Linked DNA regions of Homo sapiens: region 1 is linked to region 2. Evidence: fine-mapped QTL for protein levels in blood plasma. A gene starts in region 2. The other region holds a variant in brackets. All regions are shown on one strand. Distances are from middle to middle.

Region 1 (5,376 bases), 26 kb after region 2:
GAAATTTTGTTCTATTATTTCTTCACTTCTTCCCCTCTATTGTCTCTGTTCTTTCTTCCTATAATGCCTCTTAGCTAGATGATGAAAATTCTGGACTCTCCCCTATGCCTTCTAACATTGCCCCATATTTTCTTTTCCTTTGTCTTTGTGTGTGTGCGTGTATGTGTGTGTTTGTGTTCATGTGCACACTAGGGGAATGTCCTCACATCTACCTTTCAAATCTGTAACTTGCCTTCAGCCACGTAGAACAGGTGTTCTGGAGCCAGATAGCTTGACTTTGAATTCTGACTTAGCTAATTTTTAGCTGTCTGAGCAAGTGACTTAATCTCTCTCTCTCTCTCTTTTTTTTTTCTTTTAATGAGATGGAGCCTCACTCTGTTGCCCAGGCTAGAGTGCAGTGGCACAATCTCTGTTCACTGCAACCTCCATCTCCTGGGTTCAAGTAATTTTTCTGCCTCAGCCTCCCGAGTAGCTGGGATTACAGGCACCTGCCACCATGTCCGACTAATTTTTGTATTTTTAGTAGAGACAGGGTTTCGTTGGCCAGGCTGGTCTCGAACTCCTGATCTCAAGTGATCCTCTCGCCTCGGCCTCCCAGAGTGCTAAAATTACAGGTGTGAACCACCGTGCCCAGCCATTAATCTCTTTAACTCTGTTTCCTCACCTGTGAGATGGGGAGAATAATAGTACCTGCCTCACTGGGTTAGTTTGATTATTAGGTATGTTAGGATGTTTAAAATGCGAAGAACAGATCCTGGGCCTAACACATAGGAGGTACTTAATATATATTAGCTGCTAGCATTATCAACAGTTATTCCACTTGTTCACTGAGGTTTTAATTTTAACAATCCTATTTTGAATTTCCAATAATTTTTCTTGTTCTCTGATTTTTGCCCCTCATTTGTAGCAGCCTATTTTTGTTTTATGGAGGCAATATCCTTTCAAATTTTTCCAAAGATACTAATTACTATTTTAATTATTGATATTAATTGTGGTTTAAAGTTTTTCTTTGTTCCTTTAATCTTCTATTTGTTTATCATAGCCTTTCTTTTTCATGTTCTTTTTTTTTTTTTTTTTTAATTTCTCAAATGTCTAGCAGTCCTTGGTTGCCTGTTCCTTTTGATCTGTGAGGGGCTCCACTGATCAGGATACTTGGCTGCTTTCTGACGTAGCTGTCCACTCATTGATTCATGTGAGGCTTGCTGTGGCATCTGAGTGCATGAGTGGGAGGTGTCTGGTCAGGTTTCCCTCTGGGGTGTACGGGTGAGCACTCCCCAGGCAGCCACTGGAAGGAGAGCTCTGCCTAGAGGTGTGGTGCTTCAGAATAAAGTAGATTTCATTCCAGGGCAGAGCTGTGCATTCGCAGACTCTGTTGACTCTCCTTTTCTCCCAGGCCCAGTGCTGCCACCAGGGCCCCATGGAGGTAGATCTCCGTCTCTTGAGAGAGCAGTTCTCTGGCTTTAGCTTGAGATCTGTTTTTCGTTTGGTGATCACCCCAACGATTGTGCCTTGGCCGGTTCTGTCTCTTTGCATCCATTGGCTCAGGGCTTGGAGCTTCTCCAGTGCTGTCACCAAAAGTGCTGTTCTTCCTTTTTCTAGGAAATGAGTTTCCTCTCTTCCTTTCCAGTCAGAGCCATGCCATCTGCTTTCTATCTTCCAGGAATTCTTTGAAATGATTGGTCTATTAATGATGTCCATTCTTATTTTCCTGTGTTGTTATGGTTTATTTTCTTTTGTCTGTTCTTATGTCCTGTTTGCCTCCCCTCACAGTTTTTCCCCCCAGTAAGACCATGCACAGGAAAGAGGAGAGCTGGATATACATCTATCTGCCATATTGAACTAGAAAGTTTTCTTTTTTATTTTGAGCTTTCCAAGATTTTCTTAATGATGCCAATTTCCTCCCAGATAGATTAATATGAATATATTTTTTGTGTGGGCTGTGTCTCTGGATGTCCCCTGGAATAATGGTGGTTCTTGTCTCCATGATCTGCCTCTTTAGAGAGCTCAATTCTCTTTTTAATGAACACTTGGGGGCTTGGTCTGTTGCTGCAACACCCTGCTTCTCTCAAGCTTCAATAATAAAGTGAGTGTGTTAAGGAACTATGAGTAGAGAACCATAAGATACTCGCCCATCTCCCAAATATCTCCCATACCATCATCTGTCAAAGGTACCTGAAATACCTTTTTGTCTTCAGGAATCTCCAGATGAAAATGCTAACGTCCTAAGAAAGAATAAGACCTTGAGGCTTAAATAAGTAATATCAGCCAACACCTTCATTTGGAAGCTTGGGTTTGTGGAAACATAATGGAAGGGAGATGATGGGAGGATGAGCAGGATGTGACAGGGACTCCCTAAAAGGGAAGTAGGTGTGACTGTATGCTTCTCAGTTTTCTTCCATGCCCACCCTGGCTGATACCACATAGTTTCTGTTTCTTATTTTGAATTGGCAGTAGGAAGTCAGCTGCATTCCTAGGCATACGCATAGGTGCTATTATAGAATGAATGTTTGTGTCTCCCAAAATTCATATGTTAAAAGCTCCAACCCCTGTGACTATATTTGGAGGTAAAGACTTTATTGGAGGTAATTAAATTTAAATGAGGTCATAAGGGTGGGGCCTTTATCCAATAGAATTAGCATACTCCCTTCAAGCCTCCAGAGCTTTGAGAAAATAAATTCCGTTATTTAAGCCACCGACTCTATAGTACTTTTTTCTTTTTATGGAAGCTTGAGCAGACTAATACAGTTGTCTTTAGGGAAAGATTGAAGATAGAAAAAAAGCAAAAACACAAGTATGGGGCCGGGAGCAGTGGCTTATGCCTGTAATCCCAGCATTTTGGGAGGCCGGGGCAGGCAAATCACCTGAGGTCAGGAGTTCAAGACCAGCCTGGCCAACATGGTGAAACCCCGTCTCTACTAAAAATATAAAAATTAGCCGGACGTGGTGGTGTATACCTGTAATCTCAGCTAGTTGGGAGGCTGAGGCAGAAGAATTGC[A/G]TGAATCCAGGAGGTGGAGGTTGCAGTGAGCTGAGATCATGCCACTGCACTTCAGCCTGGGCGACAGAGTGAGACTCCGTCTCAAAAAACAAAAACACAACTAGGGATAGTCAGCATTTCCTTTTTTTATATATAAAAATTGAAGAGGCCTCATGTTTGGGATCTTCTTAGCTAAGATTAAAACCAAGTTCTGGAGTGCCACAGTCCAGGTGACAAAAATGATTTTTAAAAAAATTTGTGAAGCAGTTTTGCATACTTTTTTCATGTCTGAATATCAAGTTCAGGAAGCTTGACTCCACTACTCCCGACCAATATTGGCAAAATATATTGAAAATAAATTGCTAACTTATTTTCAGTAGCATATTATTGACCAAGGAAACACAAAACAGGATTTTAGGCCAATTAATCCAGCAGTGTTAGAATGAACAGCGAATGGGATCCATGTGATTGTCATTTCAGATGGTCGGCACTTTTTAGTCAGGCTGGAACTATATTTGGTTTGCTCTGGCTGAAGCAGCGAGGGAATTGCTATAGTGTGATTTGCACGCCTGCTGCAGCAAAATATGGCACTCTCAAGATCAGAAGGCACTGTTTTATTTTAAGTTTCTCCCCCTTGCACCTTAAGGTCTCTCTGCAGATGCATGTGACTAGGTGAGACATATTCATGGAATATTTTGAAAATAGGCCATTTCCCCCCTCGTGCATTTTCACTCTTTCTACTCAAGTTCATCCCTCAAGCATGAACATTCCTTTTCCATTGTCACTCACTCTCTTGGTGGTGTTAACCAGTCTTGTGGCTTTGAATACCAGCTACACAATGATGCCTCCCAGTGTATGTCTCCAGCCCTCTCTCCCATGAACCCTGGACGTATTTATCCTGTGGCCTATTCAGCAGCTCCACTTAGATATCTCTTGCATTTGGAGAATGACAACCCCATTCTTCCAGTTGCTCAGAGTCATCTAGGACTCTTGTTTTTGTGTCACACCTTACATCTTATCCATCAGCAAATCCTATATGCTCTACCTTAAAATAAATCAAGGCTCTGACTCCTCAGGGCCTTCACTACTATCACCTTGGTGCAAGACACCGTCCTCTCACCTGGATTATTGCCGAAGCTGCTAACTTGTCTCTCCATTTCTGCCTTTGATTGCTATACTCTCTTTTCAACGCAGAAGCCCGAGGGAGCTAATCCTGAAACATTTCCAGTTTCATGGTGAAAGCCAAAGATCCTTCATACTAACCTATAATACAGCCTCCCATTGTCCCCCACCCTGACCTTCTAGTGCTTTCCCTTTTCTAGCGATGCTGACCCTCTTGCTGTTCCTGCAATACACAGGCACATTCCCCGCCTCAAGCCTTTGTGTTTCTTTTTCCCTCTGCCTGGGAACTCTTTCCTCTCAGCTGTCCACATGATTCACTCCCTCATCTCTCCTAAGTCTTTGCTCAAATGTGACCTTCTAAGTTCAAAAATTCTCTCTTCAGCAGTGTCTAATCTGCTATTTAGCCCATCCATTGAGCTTTTAATAGCAAAAATCTTTTTGTTTTTAGAAGTTGTGCTTGGTTATTTTTCAAATCTGCCAGGATCTTTTTTTTTCTTTTAGTCTTGTACCTTGCTACTACTTTTTTTTTTTAAACATTTCATTTTATATTTATATGCCAGAATTCCATTATCTGAAATCTTTGGGACCTAATACTCTTGTCTTTCTTTTCTGTTGCTTTTCTTTGTGTTGCCTGTGTGTTTTGTACTTTTTGTGTGTTTTTGTTGTTGTTGTTGTTTGGGGGTGTTTTGTTCTTTTGAGACAGGGTCTTGCTCTGTTGCCCAGGCTGGAGTGCAGTGGTGTGATCATGGCTCATTGCAGCCTCAACTCAGGCAACTCTCCCACCTCAGCCTCCTGAGTAGCAGGGACTACAAGTGCACACCACCATGCCTGGCTAATTTTTTTTTTTAAGTTTTAATAGAGATGACATCTCACTATGTTGCCTAGGCTGGTCTCAAACTCCTGGGCTCAAGCAGTCCTCTTCCCTTGGCCTCCCAAAGTGTTGGGGTTATAACTGTGAGTCATTCTACTTGGCCTGTAATTTTGAATTGTACGTTCTGGTTTGTCTAGGTTCTCTCTGGGGTTGAGAAAACTTCTTCCAGAAGGAATTTATAATTGCCTCTGCCAAGTACCTGTGGCACTGACAACTCAGGACAACTTTAAGTTAATTTCTCCCCCTGGGGTTTATTAAGCCAAACTAGTAATGAAAAGCCAAGCCCAAACTTATGTTAAGCAAACCTATGGTTGCCAATTCTTGAAGGAGAAGTTTATCTGCATACAGAGCCCAGTGGCCAAATTTTTTTTCTGGTCTACCCTTCATGAACGAGGTTCTATTTCTTAT
Region 2 (5,376 bases):
GAGACTCCATCTCAAAAATAAAATAAAAAATGAGAATAGATGTTAATAGTAGAGTAGCATACATCATAGAGGTAATACAATAGTACATTTCTGTGGGAAAAGGGTTATTCTGGCATAAATTGCTTTCATTTAGAAGAGCTAAGTTAGAACTTCAGATCACATTGCAAAACATAGATGGGTGAAAGTCTAAATTCTTAAAAAAAAAATACAGTGTAGTATACTAGATTAAATAAAGGATTATCGGCTGGGTGCAGTGGCTCATGCCTGTAATCCCAGCACTTTGGGAGGCCGAGGCAGGTGGATCACCTGAGGTCAGAAGTTCAAGACTCGTCTAGCCAACATGGTGAAACCCCATCTCTACTAAAAATACAAAAATTAGCCAGGCGTGGTGACACGTGCCTGTAATCCAAGCTACTCAGGAGGCTGAGGCAGGAGAATCACTTGACCCTGGGAGGCGGAGGTTGCAGTAAGCCGAGATCGTGCCACTGCACTCCAGCCTGGGCGACAGAGCAAGACTGTCTCAAAAAAAACCACTTTTAGTCTGCTTTCATGAGCAATAGTTATCAATGAATTAACCTACTAATTTGCTATATCTTGAGTTTTTTACTTGGAATTTTTCAAAGTTTTTCCAGTGTAGTAGCTTTGCTTGCCTTACCTTCCTGCTTAGTGAAATTCCAACATAGAATCTTCTGGGTTTTTTTTTTTTTTTTTTTCAGTCTCAACCTCCTGGGCACAAGTGATCCTCTAGCCTCAGACTCTTGGGTAGCTGGGATTACAGGTGTGCACCACACACCCAGCTACTTTTTATTTGTTTTTGTTTTTTGTACAGAGAGGATCTTGCTATGTTGCCCAGGCTGGCCTCGAACTCCGGGGCTCACTCAATCCTCCTGCCTCGCCCACAAAGTGCTGGGATTATAGGCATGAGCCACTGTACGTGGCCTAAAGTCTTGTATTTCAATGAGGCAGCACTGTCATTACGCTAAGCACCATTTTTACCACTGATGTGGAATGTACTTTAACCTTCCTAAACCTCAGTTTTACCCACCCTCAAAATAAGTTATCTTTTATTGTACAAATGTCCCAACCAAAAGCATAAGCAAGAGCAGACAAAGTTAATTATACTAAGGATACATCATTTTATCCTTACTACCTCTTGCAGTGTCTGGCATATAGTAGGAGCTCAATGGATGTCCACTGAATGCTGAAAAGAAGTGAAAGGTAGTAGCCTCACATCTGTGTCCTAAAGAAGGAGACTAACATTTTCATACAATACCAAAATAGATATATTCATTAAAAATGAAAATAGATATTCATTACAGTGTCTCTGAGTTAAAAAGATGGTATAGTTAAACATTCTGGGCTAAGCCTGTGTGTGTGTGTATGTGCTAAAAATATGTTTCTTTAAAGGCTAATCAGCCAAGGATCGTTGGGGACAAAATCAGATTCATTGGCTTGATGCATTGAAAGAGTACCTGTGGAATGCCATGTGAGCACAGAAAGGAGGAAGTGTCTTTTGTAAAGATTTGGCTTCCTATTAAAGGATTCCAGGGAGAGTCTTGGAATCAGAGCTGGGATCCAGTTGGTTGCTGTTTCTGAGGCAGATTGAGAGAAAGGGGGATTAATGAGGGATTGGGTGCTGTCAGGAGGTGAAGGGAGTTTAGCAATTGGGTATCCCCAGTTATGGATGGGAATAGTAAAGCAAAGGTAGAAAGTAGTAGTCATTCAAAAATGGAACACAAGGAGTTGTGTTGTTTTGTACCTGCTGCGTGACTTCAGAGGAAACAACATTGCCTGTTAATTTTGCTTCTGACTTTGTCCTCTCAGCCTGATCATTGATCATTGGCAGTACTAACTTTTCCAAGTCCAAGCTGATTTTCACTCTTTGAGTCCTGGACAGGTTTTTACTCTTTAGTTTTTATTTATTTATTTATTTATTTATTTATTTATTTATTTATTTATTTATTTATTTTGAGACGGAGTCTTGCTCTGTCGCCCAGGCTGGAGTGCAGTGGCACGATCTCGGCTCACTGCAACCTCCGCCTCCTGGATTCAAGCGATTCTCCTGCCTCAGCCTCTCAAGTAGCTGGAACTACAGGCGCGGGCCACCACTCCCGGTTAATTTTTTGTATTTTTAGTAGAGACGGGGGTTTCACCGTGTTAGCCAGAATGGTCTCGATCTCCTGACCTCGTGATCCGCCCGCCTCGGCCTGCCAAAGTGCTAGGATTACAGGCGTGAGCCACCGCACCCAGCTGGTTTTTACTCTTTAAATGTGCATTATCTTATTTGATTCCCAGAATCATCCTATATGAATGCTATTATCTTCATTTTATAATTGAGGAAACAGGTTTATCTAGATTAGGTAACTTGTCTGAGGCTCTTCGGTAAATACGAGTAGCCAAGAAGCTTATTCATCAACAGTGTGTGACTCAGCCCTAAGCACTGCACTTATACCTCCTAGTAATGAGATGTGCGAGGAATGCCCTGGCTACCTTTTCTGCTCATGATATTATCCCTAGATGCTTTCGCATCTTTATTAAAACAGTAAAAATGCAAGAGTCTTCCACCCAAGTTTTCTGTGGTTTAGATTATCACGTTCCTCAAGATGCAAATGTCAAACTATACTGGGCATCCAGTTAACCTGCAAGGCCTGGAGGTGATGGGAGCCCCTCCTAGCACAGGTTCCCAGTCTCAGTCAGAAAGCACCTGCTCAAAATAGAAAGATAATTACAGAGTAGGGGCCAAAGAGACTCCCACTGGAAGAATGGAACTTGTGTAGCTGGGGTGACACAAGCTGGGGACAAGCTGGGGGACACATTCGCGAAGGGTGTTTGACCCAGGCAGTGCACCCACGGCTCCCTTGAGCCACCCTGGCCCGGGTGTTTATTTGGAAGGAGTGTTCATCCCCCAGACTGTTTAGGGCCACGGTGACAGGGAAGGGCTTGGTGAAGGAAAGCAGGTAGGGTATGAAGGCCGCTCAGGTTCACGAAAGACTTTTGCTTGGTCCCCTGCGGGGTGGGAGTGTGTCGCCCCGGTGCGGGTACTTAGAGCGCAACCGGGGAGCTGAGCAGGGGAGCTGAGCAGGGGAGCTGGGCAGGGGCGGCTGCCGCGCCCCACATCCCTGAGGGCGTGTGTGCGCGTGCGCGCGCGTCGCCGTGGTAACCGCGGCGGCGGAAAGGCGCTGAATCACTGGCGCGCGCTTTCCCCGAGCCTGCAGAAGCTGCCGCGGGCGGTGGGCGGGGATCCCCCGGGGGTGCAACCTTGCTCCACCTGTGCTGCCCTCGGCGGGCCTGGCTGGCCCCGCGCAGAGCGGCGGCGGCGCTCGCTGTCACTGCCGGAGGTGAGAGCGCAGCAGTAGCTTCAGCCTGTCTTGGGCTTGGTCCAGATTCGCTCCTCTGGGGCTACGTCCCGGGGAAGAGGAAGCGAGGATTTTGCTGGGGTGGGGCTGTACCTCTTAACAGCAGGTGCGCGCGCGAGGGTGTGAACGTGTGTGTGTGTGTGTGTGTGTGTGTGTGTGTGTGTGTGTGTGTGTGTAAGACCTGCGATGACGACGAGGAGGAACAAGTGGGACGGCGAGTGATGCTCAGGGCCAGCAGCAACGCATGGGGCGAGCTTCAGTGTCGCCAGCAGTGACCACAGGTACGGTATCTACTTCCCAGAGCGCCTGGCCGAGAAATAGGAAAGAGGGCAGCCAGTAGGCAGGCCAATACCCAACAAAAGTAGAATCGAGACGCCCTGAGTTCAGAAGGTGAGTTTCTTAAGATTCTTCTGGGCATTCAGGAAAGGGCATTTTTTGATTGCTGCACTGATTGTTGACTAGTAGGGTGGAGTCGGGGAAATTTGAGTGTCTTTTCCCAACCTCACGAATTGCATTTTTTTAGAAGTAAGGAATCGTTTTCTTTAAACTTCATTCAGAACTATTTATGTGATCTTTCCTATTATTTGCTAAATGCATTTTGTCTCTGTTCCTTACCATAACCTGAAGCTTAAAATCTTTCTCTTCTTCCCTTTGAATTCCCTCCAAGGAATGTCACAAATTAATCGGGAGGATAAACCTGAAATTTTGAGAGTTATCATCTTAAGGTCATTTGTTAATTAAATACAAGGAGGAAAAATATGATATACATACTCATGTGCACTTTTATTGCTGGTTTGTTCATCAAAACATTTTTGTTTGTCGGTGAAATGTTAGTATTTTTTCCACTGCTTGAATTGAAAAGTTGAATGATGTTTTTGATAGTAACAGAAAAAATAAATTGTAGACAATGTTCCCCCCCACACACAAGAATTTTGGAAGTAAATGTTGGTATTTATTTCTTTATTCCTGAAATACATGCTCACTTTCCAAATGCTTCAATTTATTATAAGAAGACCACAATTGTAGAGACTACTAAAGTTATGCCAAATCTAAACTTTTATTTTGTGCTTTTTTTAGTATTATTTTTAATTCAGATGAGGAAAACTGGAGGTGTCAGTTCAGTTATAGACGTAGGAGTCACAGAGAAAGGTGAATTCCTCTGTAATTTGAAAAAGGGAAATGTAAACATATTACCTAAGTACTCTGATTTATTTGTATTAACCATTTGTAATGCATTTGCATTTGTAATGCAAAATGCCGAGGCAAGAACTTAATTTTTGTTTCGAAATAATGAAAATAATTCAGCCAAAATCTTTATGAATTAAAAATAGCCAAAAGAGAGCTTTGGTAATGTATGAATGTAAAAGAATAGAGTTGCTGTTAAATTTTCTTGACTTTTTTTTTTTCCCTAGCCAATAGATAGGAAGCATTCTCTTTAAATAAATACAGTAAGTCCTCACTTAACATTCTTGATACGTTCTTGGAAACTGTGAACCTTTAAGCACAACGAGGTATAAGGAAACCAATTTTACCACAGGCTAATTGATATAAACAAGAGTTAAGTTCCTACAGCATATTTCTGGTCATAAAAAAATCACCAAACTTCTAAATAAAGACCACAACACTTCTAATATTAAACATAGAAATAAATGGGATCTATACATACAGTTAAGAAGGATTAGTAAAAACAAGATCATTATTTACCCAATTATTACAGTTCAAGGTCATGGGTAGCCAGAGTCTCCCTGGTTCAGAGTGGGAACCCCCCCCTCTCCCCTGTCCAGGAAGCTATCCCATCACAGGGTGCACTTTCACAGACACACCCACTCACTCAGACGGGGACCATGTAGACATATGCACAGCTTTGGGATGTGAAGGAAACCGAAGCCCAGAGAAAACCCACGCAGACATGAGGAGAATGAGCAGACTCCACATAGACAGTGGCCCTGGCCAGGAATTTTTTTGTCACCAACGTTGAATGAAACTATGTTATTGAGGCACTGCTGTATGTAGAGCCAGG

Which allele goes with the higher level. Alleles are on the strand shown, and positions count from the first base shown. The strength of an association depends on the size of the effect and on how common the allele is.
In carriers of allele G in region 1, the plasma level of the protein whose gene starts at base 3,182 in region 2 tends to be higher than with A alone (weak association).

The links. PIP is the posterior inclusion probability: the model's chance that the variant is causal. Protein levels are from antibody-based Olink assays in UK Biobank. Linkage for the fine-mapping came from a reference panel and not from the study's own genotypes, which makes the PIPs less certain.
Region 1: its variant is fine-mapped to the plasma level of the KIAA0319 protein (UK Biobank, PIP above 0.99).

Annotation. Positions count from the first base shown.
Region 1 is chr6:24,618,022-24,623,397 of GRCh38, reverse strand. The region is part of intron 1 of KIAA0319; the gene reads left to right. Among named protein-coding and RNA genes, the nearest start is that of KIAA0319, 25 kb to the left of the region's middle. The variant A/G (reference allele first, on the strand shown) is at 2,997.
Region 2 is chr6:24,643,997-24,649,372 of GRCh38, reverse strand. KIAA0319 reads left to right here and starts at 3,182. Exons shown (of 21, transcript NM_014809.4): 1 at 3,182-3,637. RefSeq lists a silencer at 3,128-3,337.